Linked DNA regions of Homo sapiens: regions 1, 2 and 3 are each linked to region 4. Evidence: fine-mapped expression QTL. A gene starts in region 4. Each other region holds a variant in brackets. All regions are shown on one strand. Distances are from middle to middle.

Region 1 (7,437 bases), 130 kb before region 4:
ACTCTGTCTCAAAAAAAAAAAAGAAAAAGGGCAAGATTTGTACACTAAAACCACAAAACATCATTGATGGAAATTAAAGAAGTTATAAATAAATGGAAAGACATCTCATGTTCATGGATTGGAAGATTTTTTATTGTTAAGATTGCAGAACTCTCCAAACTGACTGACAGATTCAATACAATCTCCATCAAAATCCTAGCCTGCTTCTTGCAGAAATTGACAAGCTGATCCTAAAATTTGTATGGAAATGCAAAGGACTCAGAATAGCCAAAACGATCTCAAAAAGAAGAATAAAGTTGAAAGACTCACAATTCTCAACACTTACTACAAAGATGAGTAATCAAGATTGTAATACTGCCATAAGGATAGATATGTTGATCAACGGAACAAAACTGAGAGTCTAGATAAAAACCCATACATTTATGGTCAATTAATTTTCAACAAGGGTGTCAAGAAAATTCAATGTGGGGTAAGAATAGTCTTTTCAACGATTGGTGCTAGGAAAACCGCATATGTACATGTAAAAGACTAAAGCTGGATCCCTACTTCACACCATATAGAAAAATTAACTCAAAATGGATCAAATACCTAAATGTAAGAGCTATAACCATAAAAATCTTAGAAAACACTAGTATCCAGAATATATTCTTACAAAGAACCTAATTAAAATATTGACAAAGAATCAGATATCTTCAAAGAAGATATACAAGCACATAAGCACATGAAAAGATGTTCTGAATCATTAGTCATTAAAGAAATCCAAGTCAAAACCACAAGATACCACTTTACACCCACCAGGATGGCTATTATTAAACAAATGAACAATAACAAGTATTGTTGAAAGTGTGGGGAAATTGGAATCCTTGTACACTGCTAGCGGGAATGTAAAATGGCACAGCCATTTACATTCTGGCAAACAGTTTGCCAGCTCCAAACAAAGTTAAACAAAGAGTTACCACATAATCCAGCAATTCTATCCCTAGGTATATAATAAAAAAAACTGAAGACATATGTCCATACAAAAACTTGTATATGAATGTTCATAGCAGCATTATCCATTAACAGTCAAAATAAGGAAAAAACCCAAATATCCCTCACCTGATGAAATGGATAAACAAATGTGGTATATTTATATAATGGAATATTATTCAACCATAAAAAGGAATGGAGTACTGATACATGCTACAATAGATTATGCTAAGTGAAAGGAGTCAGACACAAAAGGCCCCCCCCTTTTTTTTTTTTTTTGAGATGGAGTCTTGCTCTGTCTCCCAGACTGGAGTGCAATGACGCAATCTTGCCTCATTGCAACCTCCACCTCCCGGGTTCAAGCAATTCTCCTGCCTCAGCCTCCCAAGTAGCTGGGACTACAGGCATGTGCCACCACGCCCAGCTAATTTTTGTATTTTTAGTAGAGACAGGGTTTCACCATGTTGGTCAGGCTGGTATCGAACTCCTGACCTTGTGATCTGCCTGCCTTGGCCTCCCAAAGTGCTGGGATTACAGGCGTGAGCCACTGCGCCCGGCCAAAGGCCACAGATTGTATGATTCCATTTACATGAAATTTCTAGAGAGACAGAAGTAGACTGCCCGGGGCTAAGTAAAATGAAGAATTAGGGTGACTGCTGATGGGTACAGGGTTTCTTTTTGAGGAGATGAAAATATTCTGGAATTAGTGATGTGATGGGTACACAGTTTGTGAATATAGTATAAACCACTGAATTGTATACTGAAAAAAAAAAAGAAAACATGAATTATTTCTCAATTTTTAAAAAAACTGTATGAGGAAAAAAAAAAAACCCGTATAACCTGTCTAGCTAACCTCTTCCAAAAAATTTTCCAGTTATCAGTTGTTAAATGGTTTCTGGAAACATTACTTTTTTTTAAATAATAACCAGGAAAAGGCAGGAACATTAAAGCCATTTGATAAACATGCAAAAAGTTGAAATTCTACCCAGAGCTTAGGCCATCAGCCATCATTTCTCAATCTTCCATTCACATGAAATTTAAGTTTATAACATAGAAGATTTTCTTTTCTTTTTTTTTTTTGAGATGGAGTCTTGCTCTGTTGCCCAGGCTGGAGTGCAGTGGCGTGATCTCTGCTCACTTCAATCTCTGCCTCCCAGGTTCAAGCGATCCTCCCACCTCAGCTTCCCAAGTAGCTGGGATTACAAGTGTGCATCACCACATCTGGCTAATTTTTGTATTTTTAGAGACAGGGTTTCACGATGTTGGCCAGGCTGGTGTCGAACTCCTGATCCTCCCGCCTCAGCCTCCCGAAGTGCTGGGATTACAGATTTGAGCCACTGTGCCCGGCCTATAATATAGCAGATTTTCAAAGATTTTCCTAGATTTCCTGAAATTCTTATGTCAGGCTCTTGGTAAAAGCCTACTATTAGGCAGTCAATCCTGGTCTGATTTCTTCAAACCAAAGTGCTGACAACAGTTCCAAAGAGTAGTCTCAGAGCTGCTAGCATAATTACTTTAATTGGAAGCTGTTTCTCTCCAGTTATGCAAGGGAGTCCATATTACATGAAAATAAAATCTATAATAATTCATCATAGTATAGGATGTATACTTTTGGAGAATATAAATTAAAATATACCCTGCTAACATCTCTCCCCATTTCTGTCCTGTCAAAAGATCATTAAGGGTATGGTATGTTAAGGAAGATCTCTTTTGGAAATGCTTATACCTGATATTATAAATGTCAAAGAGTACTCTTAGACAATAGGCTGCAAGTACTGTATTCCTGCCTCATTTTAACATTTAAAAGGAACAATAAATAAATCCAAAATACTTTTCTCTATTGCACCAAAATTTCCTTTTTTTTTTTTTTTAACCACAATGTATTAAAAGTTAAATCTAAACATCTATGTAAACATCGAATAGACAAAAGGTCTAGACTGGTCAACATAGAAATCCATATAGAAAATTACACAGAAAAAAGATGGGTTTCTTTTTGTGCAACTTCCTTAACTAAAATGCTACTCCAGCAAGGAAAAGAAAACATGAAAGACAGCCCTTTTCTTTTTATACAACTAGAAATCTCATAAGCTTATGTCTTGAGCAAGCTCATCAACGAAAGCAAATTATGTTAACTGACATCACAGACACCTCTTTCCAAAGAGAAGAAAGCAGGTCAACATTAAGTCTTTAAAAATTGCAAAACTACTCTCTCCCTACATACTCACCACCATCAGTTTAAAAAAAACAAACACCCAGACTTCTGAAGACAATCACAAATGAAGATAAAAAATTGGTTTGAGATAAGTTATAAAAAGCTAAACAAAGAAGATGAGTTTCATACTCCAGGGTGAGATCACATCAATTGTAATAAAATCTAGCCAAGCAGGGCCAAACCAGTTCAGATCTCTAATGGGAAAATTAAAGATGCTTAAAGGGACAGAGTTGAGATTCATGAGGTATAGATCATGCCCAAGCCAGTCCTGAACCAATAATCTCAGCCAGTTCCACAACATTAAAGAAATTCTTCTCTTAAGAATCTGGTAGAATGAAGTACAATTTTTATGTTCTTCCTTTTACTTTTCTGAATTTTCCAAATTCTTTACAATAAAGCACTTATAGATTTCAATGCCAGAATGCTGAAACCTCGTTAGTAGAAAATAATCTCAAAGAAACAGAAAACCGAGTGGACAGGTTGCTGTAAACTCACAAGGTCAAGGCATTCTCACTTGCCAAGTACAGAGTTTGCCC[C/T]GGGGGCATTAGAGATAACAATGCTTGTGCTTTGCCCAATCTTCTCTCTGACATAATAGGCTTTTGTCTCGAGTCACCAGATGCCTCAGCATTAGTTGGCCAAGTGCTAGGGCCCCAGAGCCTAGATAACACAGCTGGAGCTTGGTACTCCTATACAGGGATTAAGAAACAATCTCCAGCCCACAACTCTATTAAGCAAACTTTGACAGCTGCCAGGGCCAGTAAAGAATAATGAAGGGACAGGGATCCAGTGGCACAGCTGCACCTCTTTCCCACACCAATATTCCTCTTCCTTTTTTCCTCAGAAGGCTCACTCTGCTGCCAACTCCAGGTCTTACTGGTCTCCTTAGCCACTATGGCTGTCCATTTTAAAAAACCACACTGGCAATGATGGGCTTTTAGTAAAACTCAAACACTTCAAAATAAATTGAAGGTTCCCTGCTTAGGGTATTTTCATAAAGGTTATGAGCCTTGATTCTACCTAAATTCCTCCTGACTGTCGTCTTGGCAGCAGAATATTAATAGGCTGTCCTAAGAGAGTTATAAAACAATCAGTATCCAATCATTTCCTGTACCTTGAAATGTTAACACTAAGGGAAGGACAGGGAGGAAAAAATAAAACAAGGAAAGGAAAAAAAATCCTCCTCTCAGGGAAATGCCTACACCCCAGAGACCAGGTCCAAGCTCCCTCCCTACTCCATATCCAGCCACACAAAAGCCAAAGCCAAGAACAATCCTCCACTTACAGAGGCTTCCACAAATTTCTCTCCTCAGCCAACTCTGGAGCCAGGATGAGAGACTTTGTTGGCACATGCCAGCTCTTGTTTATGAGCTGGTTACCACCTCAAAGGCTGCTTGGCCCAAGGTCTGCCTTCCCTTTACAGGATCTTTCAAACTTCAAAATGGGATCTTATCTTGGACTCCTCTTAAGACATGGACGTGGGTTACTTAACCTATTGCTTCCAGCTTGAGTGCTATCCAAGGATTTCTCTGGGGACTACATTCTCAGGGGGTAGTCAACATTATCTAATATGGAAGGACTTTCTACCCACCTGTACAAAGTAAAGAAGAACGGAAAGATTTTAAATTAAAAGTAAAAGCGAACACTTTCAGAAATAACTTCAGTGGCCATCAGGTAAAGGTAACAGCTGAAGTGACGAAAATCAGGTGAGCCTCTCCTTTGCTGTCAGTGTAGCAGAGAAGGTGGGAAGAAAGATAATAAAATAATCTCTTCGGCTGATAATTTAATTCTGTCCCGTACTCAGAGCTTATTTCTGAAATCTTGTAATAGAAATTTCCCTAGGTTGAATTCCATATCCTAACAGCTAGGAATTGAAGAGACATTTGGAAGTCAGTTTCTCGGTTACTTTTTGTTGTCTTCCCATTCTATTGTGAACCCTTTTCTCCCTTAATTTCACCTCACCTTTTAGAGATTTGGGGAGAATACCAGAACGTGTGGGAAAAAAAATATTAGCCAAAAATTTAAGAAAACGAGAATAAAAAAACAAAAAGAAAAATAGAGATTTGGGGATAATAAAAACTGAGACACAGGTTAGGGAGCCTGGCTCTCTAACTGCCTTTGGTTTTCTACTTTCTACGGAAACAACATTCACAACAGAAAACTACATATATCATATATGTACAACTCTGCATTTTCATAAACTGAACACACAGTTATGTAAATAGCATCCACAACAATATTTTAGCAAATAGTGCTCAAATAAAAACTTTGCCCTCCAGGGGATATTTGGCAGTGTCTGGGGACATTTTTGGTTGTCTTACCTTGGAGCGAATATGATAAAGGTATGGATGCTGTGAAACATCCTACAATAAACTGGACCACCCCAACAACAAAGAATTACCCTAGCCCCAAATACCAATAGTGTTGTTGTTGAAAAATCCTGGTTATAGCAACCCAGAAACCTTCCTGTACTGCTTCTCCAGAAAGGACTTTTACCACAAAAATGCAAGACTCCTTATGCTCTGGTAGAAAAGCTGCTGTAACATACTGCCATGAGGAGGTGGTACAGAGCATAAATGATCACAGATGAAACTACTCACCTGCCTGGAAAGACAAGAGAGGCTGCAAGGAGAAAGGAAAATAGAACAAACATTTGTTGCTGACCTGTAACTATTATACTATAACCTCCATATACTGTGCATTTACAGTGTACTTTTAGATCTTTTAAATTAAAACCATATAAAATCTAAGGAAAATGAGATACGGAGAGGTAATTTGCAGAAGATCCTATATATATTAAATGGCAGTCAGTGCTGGGATTCAAACATAGGCCTGATTACAATATCTATGCTTTCACTTTAATACTATTAGAAGTTGAGAGTTTAAATAACTGAAAATTAGGTCAAAAAAGAAAAAAGGAAAACTAAAAAAGTTGAGAGTGATGATGCCAGGCAGGGAAAATATGGCAAATGGTTAAAATAAAAAGCAAAGATCACTCTTCCATTGTTCATAAGTGGCATGAGAAACGAACTTTTCCTCAAAGTGTGCCTCAATCCAATAAAACCAATTCTAACTACAGAACCAAGCAAGTTCTATAACCTCTTTCAGTGGATTTTAAAATGTTTGTATAGACATATGTTCCCAGCTGTGGGTTTTGTATTCTCTCTAGGACACAAGGAAGCAGTTCCCAATATGCCAACTAAGGTAGCTACCTTCTTGGTGTTCCTCAGTGACCCATACTGAGCCCCTTTCATTCAATACAGACACATTCTTCCTGGGTAAGTGCACTCACTTCTATGGCATCAATTACCATTTATGTGTTCACATTAATAAACTCTTAAATCTTTAGATTTCCAGTTCTCTCTCTCACACATCCAGTCCTCAAGAGACATTTCTACTTGGTTGTTCATTCATTCAACTCCCTCTTCCAAATTAACTACCATTTATCCTTCAGATATTTACTCAAACTTCTTCACGGATATTTTCCCTGACCCGCCCCCGCCCCCCGCCCCCCGCCCTGCACCCGCCAAGAATGGTTCAGTTCCTAATTATAGGCTCTCAGCATCCTATAACTTTCACTTTTATAATTTTAATAGTGTAAAATGATAGATGTGCATATGATTGTTTGATTCCATTCTATCTCCCCTACTAAACCGTATGCCCTAGAAAGAGCAGGACCAAATCTATTTTGCTTACATTATCCCCAGCACAGGCAGTGCAAGCACCTCAAAACATGTCCCAAGTTAAACTCATTATCATTCCCTGCAAACTTGCCCCTTTTCAGTGTTCCCTCCTATGAGTAAGTGGTTCCATGAACAGCTTGGTTCATGCCCAAAATCTGGACATGACTCTCGACTTCTTCTTCAATCTCTTCCCAACATGGTATCAATTACCAAGATGCTATCAATTGAACTTCTATTCTCTCAAATCTACCCACTTTGCTCCTTTCCTATTAATACTATTCTGGTCCAGCTGTCTTGCTAACTATGCTAACAGCTTCCTAAATGCCTCCAATCTTGTTCTCCAATCCACTCTGCAGATGACATCAAGAGTAATTCTTCAAAAACTCAAAAATCAATCACTGTAATCCACTAAAAAGTCTAACAATAGTTTTCTGCAGATGTTAGGATGAAATCCAAATCCTTTAACAAGGCTTTTAAGGCCTTCTACTATCTGACCCCATAGCACTCCAGCCTCATCTTACCATTCTATTCCTCCTCCTCCAGTCATAGTGAACTTCTTCCAGTTCTTCTCATGCC
Region 2 (7,437 bases), 200 kb before region 4:
TGACCTGATGTACGGGCTCAAATGATGTCTTCGGGCCCAATTTCAAACCCTCCCTCTCTTGGTGTTTTCTCTGGCACAGCTGCATTGTCAGCCAGGATCTCCTCCTAGGTGGCAAGGTGGCTGTAGCACTTCGATTTTTTTTTTTTTTTTTTTGAGACGGAATCTTCCTCTGTCGCCCAGGCTGGAGTGCAGTGGCATGATCTCAGCTTACTGCAACCTCTGCCTCCCGGGTTCAAGTGATTCTCCTGCCTCAGCCTCCCAAGTAGCTGGCATTTCAGATGCCCACCACCACGCCCGGCTAATTTTTGGTATTTTTAGTAGAGACGGGGTTTCACCATGTTGGCCAGGGTGGTCTCAAACTCCTGACCTCAGGTGATCCACCTGTCTTAGCCTCCCAAAGTACTGAGATTACAGGCACGAGCCACCGCGCCCGGCCCAAATTTTATAAACTCACAGCTCCAAACCCAGTAGAAAGAGACACATTCTTTTCTTTTTTCTTTTTTTTTTTTTTTGAGACGGAGCCTCGCTCTGTTGCCCAGGCCGGACTGTAAGCTCCACTTCCCGGGTTCACGCCATTCTCCTGCCTCAGCCTCCCGAGTAGCTGGGACTACAGGCACCCGCCACTGCGCCCGGCTAATTTTTTGTATTTTTAGTAGAGACGAGGTTTCACCTTGTTAGCCAGGATGGTCTCGATCTCCTGACCTCATGATCCACCCGCCTTGGCCTCCCAAAGTGCTGGGATTACAGGCGTGAGCCACCGCGCCCGGCCGAGACACATTCTTTTCTAATCACACTAACAAAAATCCTTACGTTCATTCTGATTGGACCAGCTTCTGGAGTTTAAAATCAATGGCCCTCAAAATCTTTACATTTTGTGACCAGGTGCAGTGGCTCATGCCTGTAATCCCAGCACTTTGGGAGGCTGAGGCAGGCAGACTGCTTGAGCTCAGGAGTTAGAGACCAGGCTGGGCAACATGGTGAAACCCGGTCTTTACCAACAATACAAAAAAAAAATTAGCCAGATGTGGTGTTAAGAGCCTGTAGTCCCAGCTACTGAGGTGGCTGAGGTGAGAGGATCACCTGAGCTCAGGAGGTGGAGGTTGCAGTGAGCTGAGATCACACCACTGCACTCCAGCCTGGGTGACAGAGTGAGACCCCGTGTCAAAAAAAAAAAAAAATTTTGAGCATTCTCCAAGTCTTCGCCTTTTCTGGTTTTAATTTAAAACAAACAAACAAAAAAAACAAAACAAAACATAGTGCATATGTAGTTTTTGTCTGCCCAGAATCCCTCTTTTCTGCAGAAAACTGCCTTACTCCCACTCCACGTGTTCCTAGTAAGATAACAATCACAGTGCCCTTTCAGCTACCTGGCTCTGGGAGTGGGTTCAGTATCAACCTATTCTTTCAGTTCTTCTAAAGTAAACTGCTGATGGAATATTTCTTTAGTCTTTCAAGAGGGCAGAGCCATGCTTCTTCCTTAATATGTGTGTTCATGACATAAAACCCTTCAAACCTCTCCTAATCTTAAAAGTATTAAATGTTTACATCTTCCTCAAACATAATACTTGATTGACAGTCAAGGAGTTCCAACACAAAACTATTAATATGGCGAGACAGCAAACACCAACCCTTCTTATCCACTCAATTATACTATGAAATGAGTTATGGTTGAATCATCAGAATGTTCTGGAATGGCTGGGTACAGTGGCTTACACCTGTAATCCCAGCACTGTAGGCAGGTGGATCACTTGAGTCTAGGAGTTTGAGACCAGCCTGGGCAACATGGTGAAACCCTGTACCTACAAAAAATATATAAAACATTAGCCAGGTATGGTGGCACGCACCAGTAGTCCCAGCTACTGGGGAAGCTGAGGTGGGAGGATTACGTGAGTCTGGGAGGCGGAGGTTGCAGTGAGCTGTGATTGCACCACTGCACTCCAGCCTGGGCGAGAGAACAAGACCCTGTCTCAAAAACAAACAAGAGAACATTCTGGATGACTTATTTCTCCTAGAACAACTAGATTTTTCAGACTATGAAAGGTTATCAGAATTTCACTGCATCGTGAACATTTTTGTGTCAATTAGCTATAACTTAAAACATTATTTTTATTTATTTATTTAAGTACAATTTCCATTTTATTTTTCTCCAGAGAATAGCCTGTCTTCAGTCTTTAAGAACTCACCTCCTTACATGGGCTTTGGTGGGGGACGTGGGGCAGCACCCGCAGGTCTAAATCGGGGTGGGGGTGTTCGGTCCTTGCGGGCTTCACGAGATCGATTCCTGACTACTTTGCTGTGAATTGCACAACTCACACAGTAATGCAGCTTCACATACAGCTTGGGAAGCACATAGGCATCGAAGACGCTCGCTTCAGAAATGTCCCTGACTGCTGCGGACTCCACTATGTTTCGAATGACGAATTTCTTAATGGCCTTGTCTTTGGGCACGCATCGGGCACAGTTAGTGCAGCGAATAGGCTGCATGTGGCCGCGGCCCTTTTTGGCACGACCATTGTTCCTTCTTTTCTTTGTCATCTTGGAGGCACGGACCGGAGAGAGCAAAAACATTATTTTTATTTTATTTATTTATGTAATTTTTTGAGACAAGAGTCTTGCTCTGTTGCCCAGGCTGGGGTGCAGTGGCGCGATCCCAGCTCACTGCAACTTTTGCCTCCTAGATTCAAGCAATTCTCCTGCCTCAGCCTCCCAAGCAGCTGGTATTTCAGATGCCGGGCTAATTTTTTTTTTTTTTTTTTTTAAGTAGAAATGGGGTTTCATCATGTTGGCCAGTCTGGTCTTGAACTCCTGACCACAGGTGATCTGCCTGCTTTGGCCTCCCAGAATGCTGGGATTGCGGGCCTCGTGAACCACCATGCCTGGCCAACTTAAAACATAATTTTAAATGCTTGAACAGAATTATTACCATTATTATTTTTTTGAGACAGTCTCACTCTGTCATGCAGGCTGGGGTGTAGTGGCGAGATCCCAGCTCACTGCAGCCTCCACCTTCTGGGTTGAAGCAATTCTCGTGCCTTAGCCTCTCAAGTAGCTAGGATTACAGGCACCTGCCACCAGAGCTGGCTAAATTTTCATATTTTTAGTAGAGATGGGGTTTCACCAAGTTGGCCAGACTGGTCTCAAATTCCTGGCCCCAAGTGATCCAACTGCCTTGGCCTCCCAAAGTGCTGGGATTATAGGCGTGAGCCACCATGCCCAGCTGAATAGAATTATTTTGAACAAACCAACCACGATTCATTTAACCAATTAACTATAGATGGATATTTAGGTTGTCCTAATTTTCACTTGTATAAACAAGGCTGAGAGAAATATCTTTTTTTTTTTTTTCTTTGAGGCAGGGTCTTCCCTCTGCTGACAGGCTGGAGTGCAGTGATGTAATCATGGCTCACTACAGCCTTGACCCCCAGAGCTCCAGTGATCCAGTGATCTATCTCAGTCTGCCAAGTAGCTGAGACCACAGGCACATTCCACCAGCTGATTAAAAAAAGGCCGGGTGTGGTGGCTGACACTCGCAATCCCAGCACTTTGGGAGGCCAAGGCGGGCGGATCACCTGAGGTCAGTTTGAGACCAGCCTGGCCAACATGGTGAAACCCCATCTCTACTGAAAATAGAAAAATTAGCTGGGCGTGGTGGTGTGTGCCGGTCGTCCCAGCTACTTGGGAGGCTGAGGCAAGAGAATCACTTGAACCCGGTGCACGGTAGGTCGAGATCGTGCCACTGCACTCCAGCCTAGTGACAGACCAAGACTCTGTCTCAAAAAAAAAAAAAAATTATTTTTAGTAGAGATAGGACCTCACCATGTTGCCTAG[G/A]CTGTTCTCAATCTCATGGGCTCAAGCGATCTACCCACCTCAGCCTCCCAAAGTGCTGGGATTATAGGCATGAGCCACCATGCCTGGCTGAGAGAAATATCTTTGCACCTGTTTCACTAGTTTCATAGGGTGAAGTCCTACATATAAGCAAGTAAAAGGGTATGCACATTTTGAGGCTTTTTTTAAAACATTTTTTATAGAGACAGGGTCTCGCTTTGTTGAGGAGGCTGTTTTTGTTTGTTTGTTTGTTTGTTTTTTGAGATAGAGTCTGTCTCTGTCGCCCAGGCTGGAGTGCAGTGGCGCGATCTTGGCTCACTGCAACCTCTGTCTCCTGGGTTCAAGCGATTCTCCTGCCTCAGCCTCCTGAGTAGCTGGGACTACAGGTGCATGCCACCACACTCAGCTAATTTTTGTATTTTTAGTAGATACGGGGTTTCACCATGTTGGCCAGGATGGTCTCGATCTCTTGACCTCATGATCCGCCAGCCTTGGTCTCCCAAAATGCTGGGATTGCAGGCGTGAGCCACTGCACTTGGCCTCGGAGGCTGGTCTTGAACTCCTGGGCTCAAGCAATCCTCCCAAGCTCAGCCTCCCAAAGTGCTGGGATTACATGCATAAACGAGCATGCCCGGCCTTTAAGGCTTTTCGATACATACTACTCAACCAACTTCCAGGCTTTCTGGAACTTAAAGAAAACTCTATGGTATTGCCTACATTTCCAGGGTAGTTTATTTACTCTTCTCAGGACCTTTTTAAGGTATTATCAGAAATGTACAAAGTTTTCTACTTTTGAACCTATTTGTCTTTATCTTCAAGGGATAACATTTTGTGTTTGTTTTTAATGCCAACAAACACAAAATGGTTATGGTTAGTATAACCATTACCTTGTAAACTGACATTGAAAGCTACTGCTCTTATCTTAAGGAGGTCTATATTGATTTCTGGATTCCTTTCCTGGGTTACATGACTACTCTAAACCCAGATACATATATATATACATATATATATATGCATGTATATGTGTGTGTGTGTTATGTGTATGTAAAATAAATATATATTTTCTATATATGAAGGCCAGGTGGCTCACGTGGGCAATTCCAGCACTTTGGGAGGCCAAGGTGGATGGATCATCTGAGGCCAGGAGTTCAAGACCAGCCTGGCTAACATGGCAAAACCCCAACTCTACTAACACAAAAATTAGCTGGGTGTGGTGGCACACACCTTTAATCCCAGCTACTCAGGAAGCTGAGGCAGTAGAATCACTTGAAACCAGGAAGCAGAGGTTGCAGTGAGCTGATATCATGCCACTGCACTCTAGCCTGGGTAACAGAGCAAGAACCCCTCTCTCAAAATAAAGAGCAAAAGAGAGAGAGAGATCAATTTATCCCATACGCTCTCTCCCCTACTAATATGTATGACCTTATATTTATTCATAGATAATATTAAAATAGTTCCGACCCAAAAACTTCAATACTGAGCACAATTTAAATCCTTCTTAAACCAGGACAATAAAAGGCTAGATTTCCTAGTATACAGGTTGGGAGTTCAGATTTCTAATCAGCAAGTAGTTGGCAGCCAGGAAAGATTTAAGTTCATAAATGAGGACCATGTGCAGTGTGTTTTTTTCTTACCTTCTCCATCCAGCCCAAATTCAGCTCTTCAACTTTCTAGCAAACTTGAATAATGTTTTAGCTTTAATCACAACAAGTATGATCAACCATACCACATCTAATTTTTTACCAGTATCCATTAGTCTCAATTTTCACTATCGCTTATCTGTGAATACTATCAAGAGCTTTCCAAAAGCATCGAGTTTTTCCTGCCAAATCTCTATAATCTCTTTAACTGTCTGGGTCTGTTTACAGTATGTAAAAATTTTTAGCCATTTAATTTATAATTTTAATCTTATAGAAAAATCTCACAAAAAAGTATATTCCTGAGAAGCTCCACAGATGTGGACTACTTTAGGAAGAAGTAAAGGAGGGCCTTGGTTAAGAACAGATGAGATAAGGAAAGAAATACTATTCAAATAGAAGTAAAGGGGATGAAGATAAATAGGAGATAATGATTACGACAAATGGACTTTGAAGATAGCCATCTTGGCTTTAAATAGAGCCTCCACTACTGGCTGTGCAACTTTAGGCAAGTTATTTAACTTCTTTAAGCCACAATTTTCTTGTTAGTAAAATAAAAATTATGCTAGTGTGTATTGCATAGAGCTACTGCAATAATTAAAGGAAATATATAAGAAGCATTTGGTATTGCTGCCTGGAACATAGTCTGATAAAATGCTGCTGCTGCTGCTGCTGAAGTTTCTGTTGTTATTAAATGTGCCCTAGGGATCCTCCAAAAAGGGCTTCATCCACTGACCTTTATCTCAGAACTATGATTAGCCTGATATCAGTAGGTCTTTTCAGGCTAAGAACAGGTCAGAAGTTGGCTACTAAACCATCAATTAAAAAAATCAGTTGAGTTCTTCTCCTTTTTTAGCTTCTCAAGACCACCCTTATTTCAGGTTGGAACATGTCCACACAAGGCAGGGACATCCTCCACAATTCCTGTACCAGTCTACACTGGGCTCCATCAGAAGAGCTAAAATGGAACTAGCTAGTGTTCATTTGAGCAACCCAGGACCAAATTCAGGAGATAAAGTCCCCAGATAACATTCTGATGTGTAAACCATCTCCCCTATTTGGGTAGCTGAGACATTTTCTTGGTTGCACTATTAAGACTGAGGGCCACAGACAGGCATGGTGGCTCATGCCTATAATCCCACCACTTTGGAAGGCTGAGGCAGGTGGATAACCCGAACCCGAGGTCAGGAGTTCGAGACCAGCCTGACCAATATGGTGAAACCCCATCTCTATTAAAAATACAAAATTAGCCAGACGTAGTGACACATGCCTGTAATCCCAGCTACTTGGGAAGCTGAGGCAGGAGAATTGCTTGAACCCTGGAGGCAGAGTTTGCCATTTGCCATTGCATTCCAGCCTGGGCAACAAGGGCGAAACTCCATCTCAAAAAAAAAAAAAAAGACTACAGACCAGGCATGGTGGTTCATGCCTGTAATTCCAGCACTATGGGAGGCTGAGGTGGGAGGACCACCTGAGCCCAGGAGTTTGAGACCAGCGTGGGCAACAAAGTGAGATACCATCTCCACAAATAACAAACAAAAAACAAGAAAACAAGATTGAGAAAGAGGTTGCCATAATCTCTAGTAGTCTGTACAGTCTTCCTCTTCTTTTTTTTTTTTTTTTTTAGACAGAGTGTCGCTCTGTTACGCAGGCTGGAGTGCAGTAGGGCAATCTTGGCTCACTGCAAGCTCCGCCTCCTGGGTTCATGCCATTCTCCTGCCTCAGCCTCCAAGTAGCTGGGACTACAGGTGCCCGCCACCACGCCCGGCTAATTTTTGTTTTTTTTTTTTGTATTTTTAGTAGAGACGGGGGTTTCACCGTGGTCTCAATCTTCTGACCTCGTGATCCGCCCGCCTCGGCCTCCCAAAGTGCTGGGATTACAGGCGTGAGCCACCGCACCCGGCCTTCCCCTTCTTTTTAAGGTCTCACTCCACTGCCCAGGCTGGAGTGTAGTGGTTTGATCGCAGCAGCTCAC
Region 3 (7,086 bases), 300 kb before region 4:
GGTGGTGATGGGCCTAAGTACTTCTCTTTGCTTCCTGCAGATTGTTAGCACTGCTAGAGTTTGCTGAAGAGAAGATGAAAGTGAACTATGTCTTCATCTGCTTCAGGAAGGGCCGAGAAGACAGAGGTGAGGAGTCAGAGTGGCCTGAGCCTTACAGCCCAGACAGTGGGGCCTGGGGGAGAGAAGGGAGCACCTCCAGGATGAGGTGGGACTCTTGAATTTGCCTTTCAAACCCTGGGAAATCATGGCAGGAGGGCAAGTGCCTGAAGGGCTCGTAAAAGCCTAGTGCTTATTTGTTCCATCTTTGTTTGGGGTTTTGATTTCAGCCTACCATTGTGTTTCTCATCAGACTTTTTTACACTCTGTCTTCTGCAGCTCCACTCCTGAAGACCTTCAGCTTCTTGGGCTTTGAGATTGTACGTCCAGGCCATCCCTGTGTCCCCTCTCGGCCAGATGTGATGTTCATGGTTTATCCCCTGGACCAGAACTTGTCCGATGAGGACTAATAGTCATAGAGGATGCTTTACCCAAGAGCCACAGTGGGGGAAGAGGGGAAGTTAGGCAGCCCTGGGACAGACGAGAGGGCTCCTCGCTGTCTAGGGAAGGACACTGAGGGGCTCAGGGTGAGGGTTGCCTATTGTGTTCTCGGAGTTGACTCGTTGAAATTGTTTTCCATAAAGAACAGTATAAACATATTATTCACATGTAATCACCAATAGTAAATGAAGATGTTTATGAACTGGCATTAGAAGCTTTCTAAACTGCGCTGTGTGATGTGTTCTATCTAGCCTAGGGGAGGACATTGCCTAGAGGGGGAGGGACTGTCTGGGTTCAGGGGCATGGCCTGGAGGGCTGGTGGGCAGCACTGTCAGGCTCAGGTTTCCCTGCTGTTGGCTTTCTGTTTTGGTTATTAAGACTTGTGTATTTTCTTTCTTTGCTTCCTGTCACCCCAGGGGCTCCTGAGTATAGGCTTTTCAGTCCCTGGGCAGTGTCCTTGAGTTGTTTTTTGACACTCTTACCTGGGCTTCTCTGTGTGCATTTGCGTCTGGCCTGGAGTAAGCAGGTCCGACCCCTCCTTCTTTACAGCTTAGTGTTATTCTGGCATTTGGTTAAGCTGGCTTAATCTGTTTAATGTTATCAGTACATTTTAAATAGGGGCATTGAAATTTACTCCCACCACCAGGGCTTTTTTGGGGGATGCCTGGGCCTTTAAAACACTAGCCAAACTCTAATTAATTCTCAAATCACTGCCAGGAGTTCTTGCTCCTGGCTGCAGGCCCAGGCCCCAAGGTCTCCTTCTTGGGGTCACAAACAGCAGTAAGGAAGAGGAATATATAGCAACTCAGGGCCTGGGAATTGTGGGGCAATCCGTTCTTAGGGACTGGATACTTCTGGCTGGCTGAGTATAGTACTAGCTGCCTCCCCACCAGGTTCCGAGTAGTGTCTGAGACTCTGCTCTGCAGGGCCTAGGGTAGCGCTGGGAGTGTAGAAGTGGCCTGCCCTTAACTGTTTTCACTAAACAGCTTTTTCTAAGGGGAGAGCAAGGGGGAGAGATCTAGATTGGGTGAGGGGGACGGGGATGTCAGGGAGGCAAGTGTGTTGTGTTACTGTGTCAATAAACTGATTTAAAGTTGTGGTTGGTCTATTCTTTATTTCTGAACTAGGACCAACTCCCTACCAAACTGTTTTGACTCCAGAGCCTAATAAATAGAGGTGTGGTGCGTGCTCCTTGGGAAAAAAACTGCAGTGTAGGAGGGCAGATAAACTGGCTGAGGTCTCTCTCTGGGGCCATATTACACTGTGAAATGCGGGGTTGCTAGGAGTCTGAGACTTACTGCCAGAGCCCCCTGGAGAGAGATGTGTACATATCAGCTTCATCTAGGAGAGGCTATACCCAAGATCCAATCTGCTCTTAGCTCTTCCTTTTCTGTAAAAGGCTGGGGAGGTTGGGTCCTGATACTGGGTTTTGGCTTTTGCATGGAGCTCCTGACATTCCCATTCCTGAGGTCTTTGAAGGATGCAGCACACACCTTCCCTGTTCTAGTTTTCCCCTTTTGGAGCTCAGTGTCCTAAGGTGTGGCTTCCAGTCCCCCACACCACAGCCTGATGAATAAGCTCTCAGTGGTACCAAGGGGGCTGGAATCCTCTTCACCACAGTTTTTTTAATTTCTCAAGGATTTACTGGCACTTTTTTTCTTTTGCTTCTGTTTTGCCAATTGAAGGGCATGTTCTTCCACCTACATTTTTGCAACTGTCTACTGTTAAGCTGTGGCTCTCACATTGCTCTTTATGGAGCCTGCTTGTGTTTTCACTGTGGGCCAAGTCATTTATCTTGGACTCTAACTTGTATTCATTAAAAGTAATGAGCTCGAATCCCAAGTTTTTTTTTGTTTTTGTTTTTTTCATGGAATCTCGCTCTGTCGCCCAGGCTGGAGTGCAGTGGTGTAATCTCAGCTCACTGCAACCTCCGCCTCCTGGGTTCAGGTGATTATCCTGTCTCAGCCTCCTGAGTAGCTGGGATTACAGATGCCCACCATCACACTCAGCTAATTTTTTGTATTTTCAGTAGAGACAGGGTTTTGCCATGTTGCCCGGGCTGGTCTCGAACTCCTGGCCTCAAGTGATTCCCACGCTTCGGCCTCGCCAAGTGTTGGGATTACAGGCGTGAGCCACCGTGCCTGGCAAATGTTATTAGAGCAAGTCTGGGACTAGAGACATTCCGTTGAAATCAAGTGTCCCCCACTGGGCAGGTAATTCCTAGAGGCAGCTGGCAGTTTAGGATGCAGATATTAAACAAACACAAGGAATCGACAAGACAGATGAAAAAGAACCAAGACAAAACTCAGTCCCTTACTTTTTCCCAAGAAACATGCTTGAGATTCTGCTGCCACCTATTGGTGATTCCTCTTCAATACGGCTAGAGTCACAAAGGCTAAATTGGAAACCCAGTCAAGATTTCCCTCTTCAAAAAAAAATCACCCAGTCAAGATTTCCCTTTTCAAAAAAAACTTTTGCTATTGAAGACCACTGACAGGAAAGAAATATGGTACCCAAAAGGCTGCACTACAGTTTAAAAAGCAACTTAGAAGGTAGAATATTTTGGGGGTGGGGGTGGTGTGTGAAAGGCAAACTAAGTCTAAATTTAAGAACAGGGACATTAAAAACTTTATTCAATAAATACAACAAATAATTTAAAAATATATTTCAATTCCAAAGCCAATTAAGAAGAGGAAGTAGAGAGAAAGGGAAAAAAGTGGGGATGAGGAAGGTAGAGGAAAAGAGAAAGCGGCCAAACAATGGTTTGGTTGGGCTGTGTTTCAGAGTATACCACCCTTTAAAATTCTGATCAAATACTCTTGACCCATAAACCCTTAGCCCTTGTTCTGATGGGGTAGCCACAGGAGTCCACCAGCTGGGAATCATCCACTGAGCTCTGGATCAGAGCATTCTAGAGGCTGGAATGTCGGGGGAGTTTTAGGGGTAGTTTTCCGGTCATTCCTAAAACCATCCGTCCTAACTCCCAGGCAGGTTTAAATAGTGCAAACTCTTAGGCAGAGAGCTCCCAGCTGCATAGTTTCACAGGTGAGTGTCCCAAGCCAGGGCCTCCAGGAAACAGGTCCCAGAGTACCCAGGGGTCCAAAGCCACTTCGGTGAATGGAAATCTAAAGGTGAAGAGAGGGGAGGCCAGGGCACAGAGTAAAGCTCCTGGGCTAAGCCAGTGGCCAAGCCAGAAAACAATGCTGGGCAGAAAAGGGTTACAAGGCAGGTAGTCTGGACACTGGATTCAACAGCTTGCCATCAGCCAGGGAAAGTGAAGCTGAGGATGCATATGGAGCAGGGCCAGGAAGATCAGGAGAGCTGAGGGAGAACAGGAAAATTGGGAGGAAGGAAGAGGCAGCTCAGCAGCAAACTCCAGGAGAAATAACCAGCAGCCCTCACAGATTTGTGATTGTCTCTTAAAAAGATTTATTTTCTCTTCTTGCCTGAATGTACAAAGGCAAAAAGAGTACAGTTTGTATATATATATATTTATATATATATATAAAAAAACAAGGAACTTGGTAATGTACACTTTACAGAAGGGAAGAATCAGGAAGACTGAAATTAAATTCAACAGAGCAACGCCAATGGAACAAAATCTATGAACAGCAACACTGCCCCTCCAGCCCGGGCCTCCAGCTCGCCCCAACCTGCTCCCAATGGGAGGGCTGAGCACCAAGGCAAGCGGGTGGGCTGGGGCAGGAGGGGCTGGGGACAGGGCCTGGGAGGGGCTTGATCCCAGGAGGGGGGCC[CA/A]TGGTAGGAGATCACTGGAAAGCTTCCTGGGATGCCCAAGTAATTAAAACAAACAACAAAGGCCCAGAATTATGGGGCCAACTAGCTGCCCAGTTGCATCTTGGGGGCATCAGAGTAGACAAGGGGATGGTGAGAGGGTATACGGGATAAGTGACATGGGTGGCCTCAAAGCCTGTATGAAATAATTCTCTAGCCCTCTGCAGTCTTAACTCGCAACTCTAAGTCCTGCCATGGCCCCTTAAACGTGGAAAAAAGAGACTCAAGAAATCACCATTTCATTTCATAGGGTGCCCTCTTACCCTTCTAAGCGTGTGGTTCTTTGACCTTGTGATGTGTGGAGAGAGTTCGGTAAGAGAAGGAAATTTCATACATGTACATGTACAAGGCAGGAAAAGGGGATGAAGGGAACTGCCATACCTTAAAATGAGGAAGTAGTTGATGTGGATCCTAAAGAGCAGCTCTCCAAGCCTTGCCTGATCTATCTGGGGATGAGGCCCCCTCCCTCTTTAGCTTCTCCTCTATGGGAAGCCCCGTGAGCAATGTCTGTGAGGGCCTGGGCAGGGGTGGCTCATAAACAGGCTTGGTCTGGTGGTCTTGGCCCTTGGTAGCAAATTTTTCCAGCCTTTGTTTGTGGGGTGGGATAGGATGGGGACCCCTGCTGAGCATCTCATCCCTCTGACTAGGTCATGGATGCCACAGGTAGCTCCCACCTGTGTTTCTCCTCCCCATGTAGAGGTGGGCAGCAAATCTTTCACTCAGCACTTGTCAAGAATCTCCACAGCTGCTGCTTCATGTTATTTCAGAGGGAAGACTAGGCCCGGCAGGCATCAGGATCTGCCATGGTGGCTTTCACCTGCTCTTCTGAGCAGCTCCTACTCTTCAGGGGAGACTTGGATATGAGGATCAAAGAGCCAAATGTTTAAGAAGAAAAATTAAAAAGGAAAAGAAAAACCTGTTCTCTTCTGGAGAACCCAAGGCTGCCCAGCTAATACAGAAGTTCGTCCTCTGTGTTACAGAATGAGTGGAAAGGGCAGGAATGCAGGGCCATGCCTGCCCAATGCAAAAGAAAATTACTCCTAACGGTTTCTTTACAATATATACAGAGTATGCTGCAGGCCAGTGCCACAGATACAAAACACACAACAATATTTAAAAACAAACAGGAACAGAGAGGGAACCTTGGCTCCACCTCACAGGAGCCCCAGGAGGGCATAATCAGGCTGAAATTCAGTCACCCTCTTGGTTGGGGTGACTCAGGTGGGGTGGGATGACGGTGTCTGCACTAGCTACTTCCACGGAGGAAAGGGAGGTCACTGCTCAGAGCACTGCCCATGAGGGCAGCAGAAGGCAGAGGGAATGATGGGTATGAGGGAGGCTGTTTTGGGGCCCTGCCAAGAGGTCTAAAACAATGGTTTTTGGGGAGGACTCAGAACCCAACTTGAACAAAAACGAGGAGGCAGAAACCTAGGGAAAAGGCCTGTAGATCAGAGGGGATCCTCTTGAGCAGATGGTGACCCTAAGCCTCTCAAGTGTAGGGTTCCAGGGTCCTTGGAAATCAACTACTACTGGGCATTGTGCTTACTGTCCCCTATTTCCCATTTTCCAAACTGAGTCGGAGCCAAGTTCCTGCTCCTAGTCACTTTTGGCACTCTGGTCACACACTCCCTTTTCCAGCCTACACTGGTGTCTGTCAGTCTTTATCTCTCTCTCTCAATCCAGAGGGTCATGGAAAGATAGGAGGGGAGAACAGAGGGATGATACCTCAAAAGCCAAGTAAGCTAAGCTCCCCACACCTTGGGGAAGACATGACCCCAATAAAGCTACCAAATCATCCTCACTTTCCCAGTACAAAGAGTATAAAGCTTCCATTGGGAGACTGCATTTCTAAGGAGAGCAGAGAAATGTTGGCTGCCTCAAAGCACAGCTCCACTGAGTACATTCTGAGACTCTAATAAGTAATGGCTTGGATGTGTTATTCCAGGGTCTAAGGAACAAATAACCTCCCATGGCCAGTGGCCCCTCAAACAAAATATGTGTTACCAAGAAACACAGCTTATATTGGCCCACATGGAGGTTATAGACTGAGCTATATAAAATCATGTACTTGTAGACAGAGGAATTGGGCTGTATATATCTGTGGCCTCAAATGAGGAAGATATCAGATGGCTAGATGACAGGACATCTCCAAGAACTGCTGGGTGCTCCCAGGGGCTGCCTTCTGGGCCTTGCCCTAAGGTGACCTGGCAGACTCCAAGGTTCCCCAAGCTGGGGGGAATACTAGTTTATCTGCCTGAGGCTTAAGAGCCAAGCAGTGGAAAAGAAGAGGCAAGACCAGTGTGGGGATCCCCCTGGGAAAGGCACCAAGGGGTTAGGAGGGAAGGGAAAAGGGCAAGGAGTTGGGGAATAAGAAGCAGCAGGACTTAGTGGGGACGCAGGTTCTACTTCACAGACGTCATTCATGCTCCAGCACCAGCTTGCTCCCAGTGTCCCTGGGGAGCCCTGTGCTGGTGTTGGAACCCCTGCCCCCTGCCTCACAGGCAGCTCAAGGCCATGTTGGGGCAGATGCCTTGGTCTTCCTTTCCAGGCTAGGTTGTGAGCGTTTATATGTGCTCATGTAAATGGGGAGAAGTCTCCACATTTGAAGACCTTGTTTTCACAATTATGTAGAAAACAACCCCCAATTTCTTTCCTGAGATTCTAGTTCCTCCACATGCTGCCAATTCCCAGGGTGCAAAGCACTAGGGAGATGCAGAATCTGGTGATGGTGGTAATGATGGTGAGGGGTATGGCTGC
Region 4 (7,184 bases):
CCAGGCTGGAGTGCAGTGGTGAGATATTGGCTCACTGCAACCTCTGCCTCCTGGGTTCAAGCGATTCTCCTGCCTCAGCCTCCCGAGTAGCTGGGATTACAGGTGCCCGTCACCATACCTGGCTAATTTTTTTTTGTATTTTTAGTAGAGACGGGGTTTCACCATGTTGGCCAGGCTGGTCTCGAACTCCTGACCTCAGGTGGTCCACCTGCCTTGGCCTCCTAAAGTGCTAGGATTACAGGCGTGAGCCACCACGCCTGGCCTGAGAACGCATTTTCTTGATACTGTGTAATCCAAACAAAATACAACTGGATTCTAGACTGAGAAGACTACATCTATCATTCTTACCCTATTTCAAATTGTTAATTTATCAAAAATAGCCTCAATCTTTCTTTTTTCCTTTTTTTTTTTGAGACGAGGTCTCACTCTGTCACCCAGGATGGAGTGCAGTGGTGCGGTATCAGCTCACTGCAACCTCTGCCCCGCGGTTCAAGGGATTCTCCTGCCTCAGCCTTCCGAGTAACTGAGATGACCTGCACGCTCCACCACACCCGACTAAGTTTTGTATTTTTAGTAGAGTGGGGGTTTCGCCATGTTGGCCAGGCTGGTCTGAAATTCCTGACCTCAAATGATCCATCTGCCTCGGCCTCCCAAAGTGCTTAGATTACACACATGAACCACTGCGCCTGGCCACCTCAATCTTTTTTTTTTAATACTGTATTTAATATAATACACATATTTAATATATTTAATATAATATTTGATATATTTAATATTTAATATATTTAATATAATATTTGATATATTTAATATTTAATATATTTGATATTTAATATATTACACATATTTACAATAAATATGTGAAAATTGGGCCAGGCGTGGTGGCTCATGCCTGTAATCCCAGCACTTTGGGAGGCTGAGGCGGTTGGATCATCTGAGGTCAGGAGTTCGAGACCACCCTGGTCAACATGGTGAAACCCCATCTCTAGTAAGAATACAAAAATTAGCCAGGCATGGTGGTGCGCGCCTGTAATCCCAGCTGCTCGGGCTGAGGAAAGAGAATCGCTTGAACGTGGGAGGCGGAGGTTGCAGCGAGCTGAGATCGCACCACTGCACTCCAGCCTGGGCAACAGAATCTGTCTCAAAAAAAAAAAAAAAAAAAAGTGAAAATTTTGAACTTATATTCGTAAAAAACACTTTTCTGTTTTATATATTGCAAAGTTTCATTATTTCATTTGATAGCATTCCACTGCTTTAAAAAATGTTTGAAAACTACTAAATACTTAATCTGACTGCGTTCAAGCAAGGGTAAAGCCAAACCATAAGATTTCGCTGTTTTGTTTTGTTGTCTATTCTAGTGTTAAAAAAAATCCTTTATCTTGTTGTTTACTTTTTTTATTTCTGTAGAGACAGGGTCTCACTATGTTGCCCAGGGTGGTCTCCAACTCCCAGTCTCAAGCAATCCTCCCACCTCTACCTCCCAAAGTGCTGGGAATAAGGGCTTGAGCCATCTCCTAGGGCCTCAAAAAAATCCATTAAAATAACCTACTTGAACTGTCTCCTTGCCAAAAGTCTATTTTCTCCGAAACTCAGAAACTCATCTTACTTCCTACAAAAGCCCTAGAACAGCAATTTAGGTTTCAACATCAGTGACCAAGGAATCAAATGAAGGAACACTTTCAGTTCTTCGATCAAGTCCCATTTTTGTAGTTTTCTCCCCTGCCTGAACACTTTGGACCGCCACCTCTGTCTATTCCTTAGTTCTCGGGTGAAAGTTATCCTTTCCAATAAACCTTCCGAGTTTTTCAAATCTTAATGAGAATCCTTTATTTTGTGCTCCAACAAGCCCCTTCATTTCCCCAACCTCAGCACTCATCAACGAAGGGGAACCCAACTGTCTTGTCTTTGTTACCCCAGCACCTGGCGTGTAACAGCAGCGCAACAAATGTTCTTCAATCAGTTGAAAGTAGATATTAAGTCATGTACACCATCTCCATTTCATAGGAGTCATAAAGCATGATAAGCTCTACTAATGATTAATCTTATAAATGAAGAAACCAGGGTACAGAGAGAAAAATTAAGTTGTCCTGGGTTCTAAAACAGGTAAACGACAACAGAATATAGAACCTGAGACTCCAGAGTCAGAAGCTATTTGTACTCTACCACGCTGCTTCCACTTAAATTCTAGGTCCTATTGACACAGCTGACCCTGTTGGCTCTACTGACACAACTCAGATTGGGCCGACTAAAATGTTCAGAGTATATCTGGGTGCGGTGGCTCATGCCTGTAATCCCAGCACTTTGGGAGGTCGAGGCGGGCGGATCACTTGAGATCAGGAGCTGGAGACTAGCCTGGCCAACATGGTGAAACACTGACTCTACTAAAAATTTTTAAAAATTAGCCGGGTGTGGTGGTGCGTGCCTGTAATCCCAGCTACTTGGGAGGCTCAGGCAGGTGAATCACCTGAACCCGGAAGGCGGAGGTTGCAGTGAGCCAAGATCGCGCCACCGCACGCCAGCCTGGGCGACAGAGACTCCGTCTCAATAATAACAACAATAATAATAAATAAATAAAAGAGTAAGGGGTTCAAAGTTAGGAAATACAGTTTGACCTGCCCCTTCTCTCTAGAAAGGAAACTGGCTCCTGGGACAGCCTTGCATTTCTAATTATTACAGATTGGGCGTCTTCCCAGGAAAAAAGCCCGACCGGCAGACTGTGGAGCCGGACACCCTATTCCAGAAACTAAACTACAAAGGTGGAGGCCAAAATTCGACGCCTACAGACTACAGACTGCAGCCCCTTTATCACATTTCTCTCTTAACTTTTCAGTCCTCCCCGCTTCCCGGTTCGCTCAGGCAGTGCACATCCCAGAGCTCCTTCCCCGCTTGGACCCGAACTGTTCTCACTGAATGATCTCCTCGCTGACATCCAGGCCGAAAGTCTTCCGCAACTGCTGGGTGCACCAGTGCACCAGCGGCTCCCCGGACACCGCCCCAGCCACCGCCATCTTCCCCAGCCGGAACCAGCTGAGCTGCAAAAGCCCCACGTCCTGCACCGGACTAGTTCCCTTCGCAACACCAACCTCTCTCACGCGGGTTCCGCCAGCTTGCACCGCCCCGCAAGGTCGCACCGCCTCCAGTGCAGATCCCGCCCATCTGTGCGCCTCCTGCTTCTTCCTGCTTTGTTGTCTACTTCCTTGTGCCCTCCGGAGTCGAGCTCTGTCAGTGCATGATTCTTGCCAATCGCTAAACGTAGGACTCGAGGAAGGCCATTGGCAATTCTGCTAAGAAGACAGTGCAAGTGCCTATAAAAACGACAGTTTAGGGGGAAAACAAACCAATACCCGGAAAGCTGAGAGGCCAGCTTTTTAATCGTCATGGTTTTATGTAAAATAAAACAGCACGTGGAAGGTATTGTAAGCGCTGTAAGTTTTTGCTCTGGTGGTGGTTTTAATTTTTTAATTAATTAATTAATTTATTTATTTATTTTGAGACGGAGTCTCGCACTGTCGCCCAGGCTTGAGTGCAGTGGCATGATCTCGGCTCACTGCAAGCTCCGCCTCCCGGGTTCATGCCATTCTCCTGCCTCAGCCTCCCAAGTAGCTGGGACTACAGGCACCCGCCACCACGCCCGGCTAATTTTTTTTGTATTTTTAGTAGCGACGCGGTTTCACGTGTTAACCGGGATGGAGTGTTTATTTTTAATACCCCCTGTAGTCGACTACTAGATTCACACCGCTAAAACTTCTATTTTATTTTTTGAGCCATGTATTTTCCAGGAGAGCCAAGACAACTCAGCAAGCTCGAGGGTAAAAAACAGTAAAACAGGAGTTGGAATTTGGCTTTGAGGACTTTCCACATGAGTTCTCAACCAAAAATGACAGTATTTAAGGGCTGTCTGCAATTCCCTACCCCGCTAAGACAATGGGCTGGGGAAAATTTAGCCAAACTTTTCTGGAGATCATAATGTCTTCCCATTCATTTCTGGCTTTTTGTTGCATTTGCAGGTTAAAAGTTCTTCATTTCTACTAGCCTGTTTAGACTAAGTGGTCACATTAAATTGGCAGCTGTTTTACCTTTTTGCTAGTGTTTTCATTGGCATAAATATTATAATTAAAATCATGAGTGTATTGGCCGGGCGCAGTGTCTCATGCCTGTAATCCCAGCGCTTTGGGAGGCCGAGGCGGGAGGATCACCCGAGCGCACACGGAGACACACACACAAACACACACACACACACACACACACACACTGGGCGTGGTGGCTCATGCCTGTAATGCCAGCACTTTGGGAATCAGAGGCAAGAGGATCACTTGAGCCCAGGAGTTCCGGACCAGTCTGGGCAGCATAAGGAGAATCCTCATCTCTACAAAAATGAAAAAAATTAGCCTGGCATGGTGGCACATGCCTGTAGTCTCAGCTACTTGAAAGGCTGAGGTGGGAGGATCACTTGGGCCTGGAAGGTCAAGCTTGAAGTGAGCCCTGATTGCACTACTGCACTCCAGCCTGGGCGACAGAGCAAGGCCTTTTTACAAAAACAAAACAAAACCTCATAAGTGTATTGATTTACATTCCATTTAGATTGTCGTAGATATCATTAATTTGGAAAGCAGATGATTTTCCAGGGTTTTTTTTTTTAAGAAAAAGTCAAAATACTCTGTGAATGTTTATTAATTGTGGGTACAAGTTTTGTTTCTTTGTAAAACTCCACTACATTTAATAATAATTGTAAGGTATCAAAGTCATTTACCTGTTTATTTATTCAGTCCCTGTGTTAGGGTTCTCCAGAGACAGAACCAATAGGATAGATAACAGATAGATATAGATACAGATCTATGAGGAGATTTATTAGGGAATTGGCTCAGGAAATTATGGAGACTGAAAAGACCCATGACAGGCCATCTGCAAGCAGGAGACCCTGGAATGCTGGTAGCTGGCTCAGTCCAAGTTGTGAAATCTTCAAGTCTCAAGGTGGAGGGCCTGGAGTTCTGATGTCTGGGAGCAGAAGTCTGAGAAGAGTGTCTCAGCTCCAGAAGGAAGAAATATTTTTTCTCACCTTTTTTGTTCTGGGTCCTTGGTTAATTGGATGGTGCCCGCTCACATTGAGAGCAGATCTGCCCCACTCAGTCCACTGACTCACATGCCAGTCTCCTTTGGAAATACCCTCAAAGGCACCCAGAAGCAATGCTTTACAAGTTATCTAGGTATTTCTTTTTCTTTTTCTTTTTTTTTTCTTTTTCTTTTTTTGAGATGGAGTTTCCTCTTGTTGCCCAGGCTGGAGTGCAATAGTGCAATCTTGGCTCACCACAACCTCCGCCTCCCGGGTTCAAGCGATTTTCCTGCCTTAGCTTCCCGAGTAGCTGGGATTACAGGCATGTGCCACCATGCGCGGCTAATTTTGTATTTGTAGTAGAGATGGGGTTTCTCCATGTTGGTCAGGCTGGTCTCAAACTCCCGACTTTAGGTGATCCTCCCGCCTCGGCCTCCCAAAGTGCTGGGATTACAAGCCCTCTAGGTATTTCTTAATCTGGTCAAGTTGACACCTAAAATTAACCATAACAGTCTCCATAACTAAAACATTAAGTGCTTGAAGGCAGAGACTATGACTTAAGTTTTTTCATATAATATAATTTAGTATGTCATACATGTTATGATAAGTACGTCCTCCAGAATAACATAGGTGGCTGGGTACCGTAGCCCACACCGGTAATCTCAGCATTTTGGGAGGCTGAGGTGGGAGGATTGGTTGAACTCGGAAATTCGAGACCAGTCTGGGCAATATCAGGAGACCCTGTCTCTACAAAAAAAACCTAAAAATTAGCTAGGTGTGGTGGCAAGCTCCTGTGTTCCCAGCTACTTGGAAGAGGATCACCTGAGCTCAGGAGGCGAGGCTGCAGTAAACTGTGATCACACCACTGCACTCTAGCCTGCGTGACAGAGTGAGACCCTGTCTCAAAAAAAGAAAAAGGCATTCTTTTCTCATAAGTCATATGTTAATTATGATGTAATTATAATGCAATTTATTATTACTGTCATTTGTTAAATTACATTTCTGCCTGAGCAATGCAAGCACACCCATTTAGCAAGACTTAAAGATCTCTTTTTTCTTTTCTTTTCTTTTTTTTTTTTTTTTAGACATTCTTGCTCCATCACCCAGGCTGGAGTGCAATGGCATGATCTGGGCTCACTGCAACCTCCACCTCCCAGGTTCCAGTGATTCTCCTGCCTCAGCCTCCCAAGTAGCTGGGATTACAGGCACCAGCCATCATGCCTGGCTAGTTTTTGTATTTTTGTAGAGATGGGGTTTCACCATTTTGGCCAGGCTGGTCTCGAACTCCTGACCTCAGTTGATCTACCTGCCTCTGCCTCCCAAATTGCTGGGATTATAAGCATGAGCCACTGCGCCGGCCAAGATTTTCTTTGGTATAAATGTAGGCAGGCCAGTTGCAGTGGCTCACACCTGTAATCCCAGCACTTTGGGAGGCCGAGGCAGGCAGATCACCTGAGGTCAGGAGTTCAAGACCAGCCTGGCCAGCATGGTAAAACCCTGTCTCTACTGAAAATACAAAAGTTAGCTGGATGTGGTGGCACATACCTGTAATCCCAGCTACATGGGCGGCTGAGGCATGAGAATTGCTTGAACCGGGAGACAGAGGTTGCATTGAGCTGAGATCGTGCCACTGCATTCCAGCCTGGATGACAGAGTGAGACTCTGTCTCAAAATTAATAAATAAAATAAATAAATTTAGGCAGAAATTGTATTGATACATACTGTAACTTTTCTTAATGCCCTAGGCCTTTGAAATTTTCAGGTTCACTCCACACCACTCTCTGTGTTTTATTTCATTATAAAAATTGTGTTTAATTGCTTCTGCAAAGCAAACATTTCAATGAAGAACTTTTACTAGGCATCAGCACTTTTTTTTTTTCTCTAGCATGCATTCTTCATTATCATCGTTGGTGTTAAAATGACAAACATGCAAACAAAAACAAACACACAACTATAGTAATATGTAGACTGCCCCGGGTGGAAATATATATTTGATACTCTTTCTGGCAACTTGCTTGGCAGGTGGGCAAGGAGAAAAGACTATCTTATTCTTTCTGCAGGAATCTGGAATATAAGTTCAAATTAAGTAATTCAGACCTATGTAGAAGCCACTTAAACTGGAAAGGAAATAATG

Direction of the effects. Positions count from the first base shown, and alleles are read on the strand shown. Sizes are in standard deviations (SD) of each study's normalised expression. Not every link is listed here.
For the expression in fibroblasts of the gene that starts at base 3,036 in region 4, allele C in region 1 goes with a higher level than allele T (large effect, 0.90 SD a copy in GTEx).
For the expression in whole blood of the gene that starts at base 3,036 in region 4, allele A in region 2 goes with a lower level than allele G (small effect, 0.20 SD a copy in GTEx).

Evidence for each region. PIP is the estimated chance that this variant, and not a neighbour inherited with it, causes the effect.
Region 1: its variant is fine-mapped to the expression of TRIP4 in fibroblasts (GTEx, PIP above 0.99). The same link has a PIP of 0.9 or more in breast, stomach and transverse colon.
Region 2: its variant is fine-mapped to the expression of TRIP4 in whole blood (TOPMed, PIP above 0.99). The same link has a PIP of 0.9 or more in lymphoblastoid cells, sun-exposed skin and unexposed skin.
Region 3: its variant is fine-mapped to the expression of TRIP4 in whole blood (TOPMed, PIP above 0.99).

Annotation. Positions count from the first base shown.
Region 1 is chr15:64,518,375-64,525,811 of GRCh38, reverse strand. The region is part of intron 2 of ZNF609 (zinc finger protein 609); the gene reads right to left. Among named protein-coding and RNA genes, the nearest start is that of ZNF609, 62 kb to the right of the region's middle. The variant C/T (reference allele first, on the strand shown) is at 3,718.
Region 2 is chr15:64,588,077-64,595,513 of GRCh38, reverse strand. The region is part of intron 2 of ZNF609 (zinc finger protein 609); the gene reads right to left. The region is part of intron 4 of LOC101930091 (a long non-coding RNA gene); the gene reads left to right. It also overlaps the pseudogene RPS26P50. Among named protein-coding and RNA genes, the nearest start is that of OAZ2, 110 kb to the left of the region's middle. The variant G/A (reference allele first, on the strand shown) is at 3,829.
Region 3 is chr15:64,682,124-64,689,209 of GRCh38, reverse strand. ZNF609 (zinc finger protein 609) reads right to left here. Exons shown (of 10, transcript NM_015042.2): 10 at 3,142-7,086. It overlaps OAZ2 (ornithine decarboxylase antizyme 2), which reads left to right. Exons shown (of 5, transcript NM_002537.3): 4 at 41-126; 5 at 376-1,636. The coding sequence ends at 506. Among named protein-coding and RNA genes, the nearest start is that of OAZ2, 18 kb to the left of the region's middle. RefSeq lists an enhancer at 3,167-3,668. The variant CA/A (reference allele first, on the strand shown) is at 4,293.
Region 4 is chr15:64,383,688-64,390,871 of GRCh38, reverse strand. It overlaps TRIP4 (thyroid hormone receptor interactor 4), which reads right to left and starts at 3,036. Exons shown (of 13, transcript NM_016213.5): 1 at 2,908-3,036. The coding sequence starts at 3,008. It also overlaps a transcript of PCLAF not described here. RefSeq lists enhancers at 2,320-2,820, 2,750-3,239, 2,821-3,321.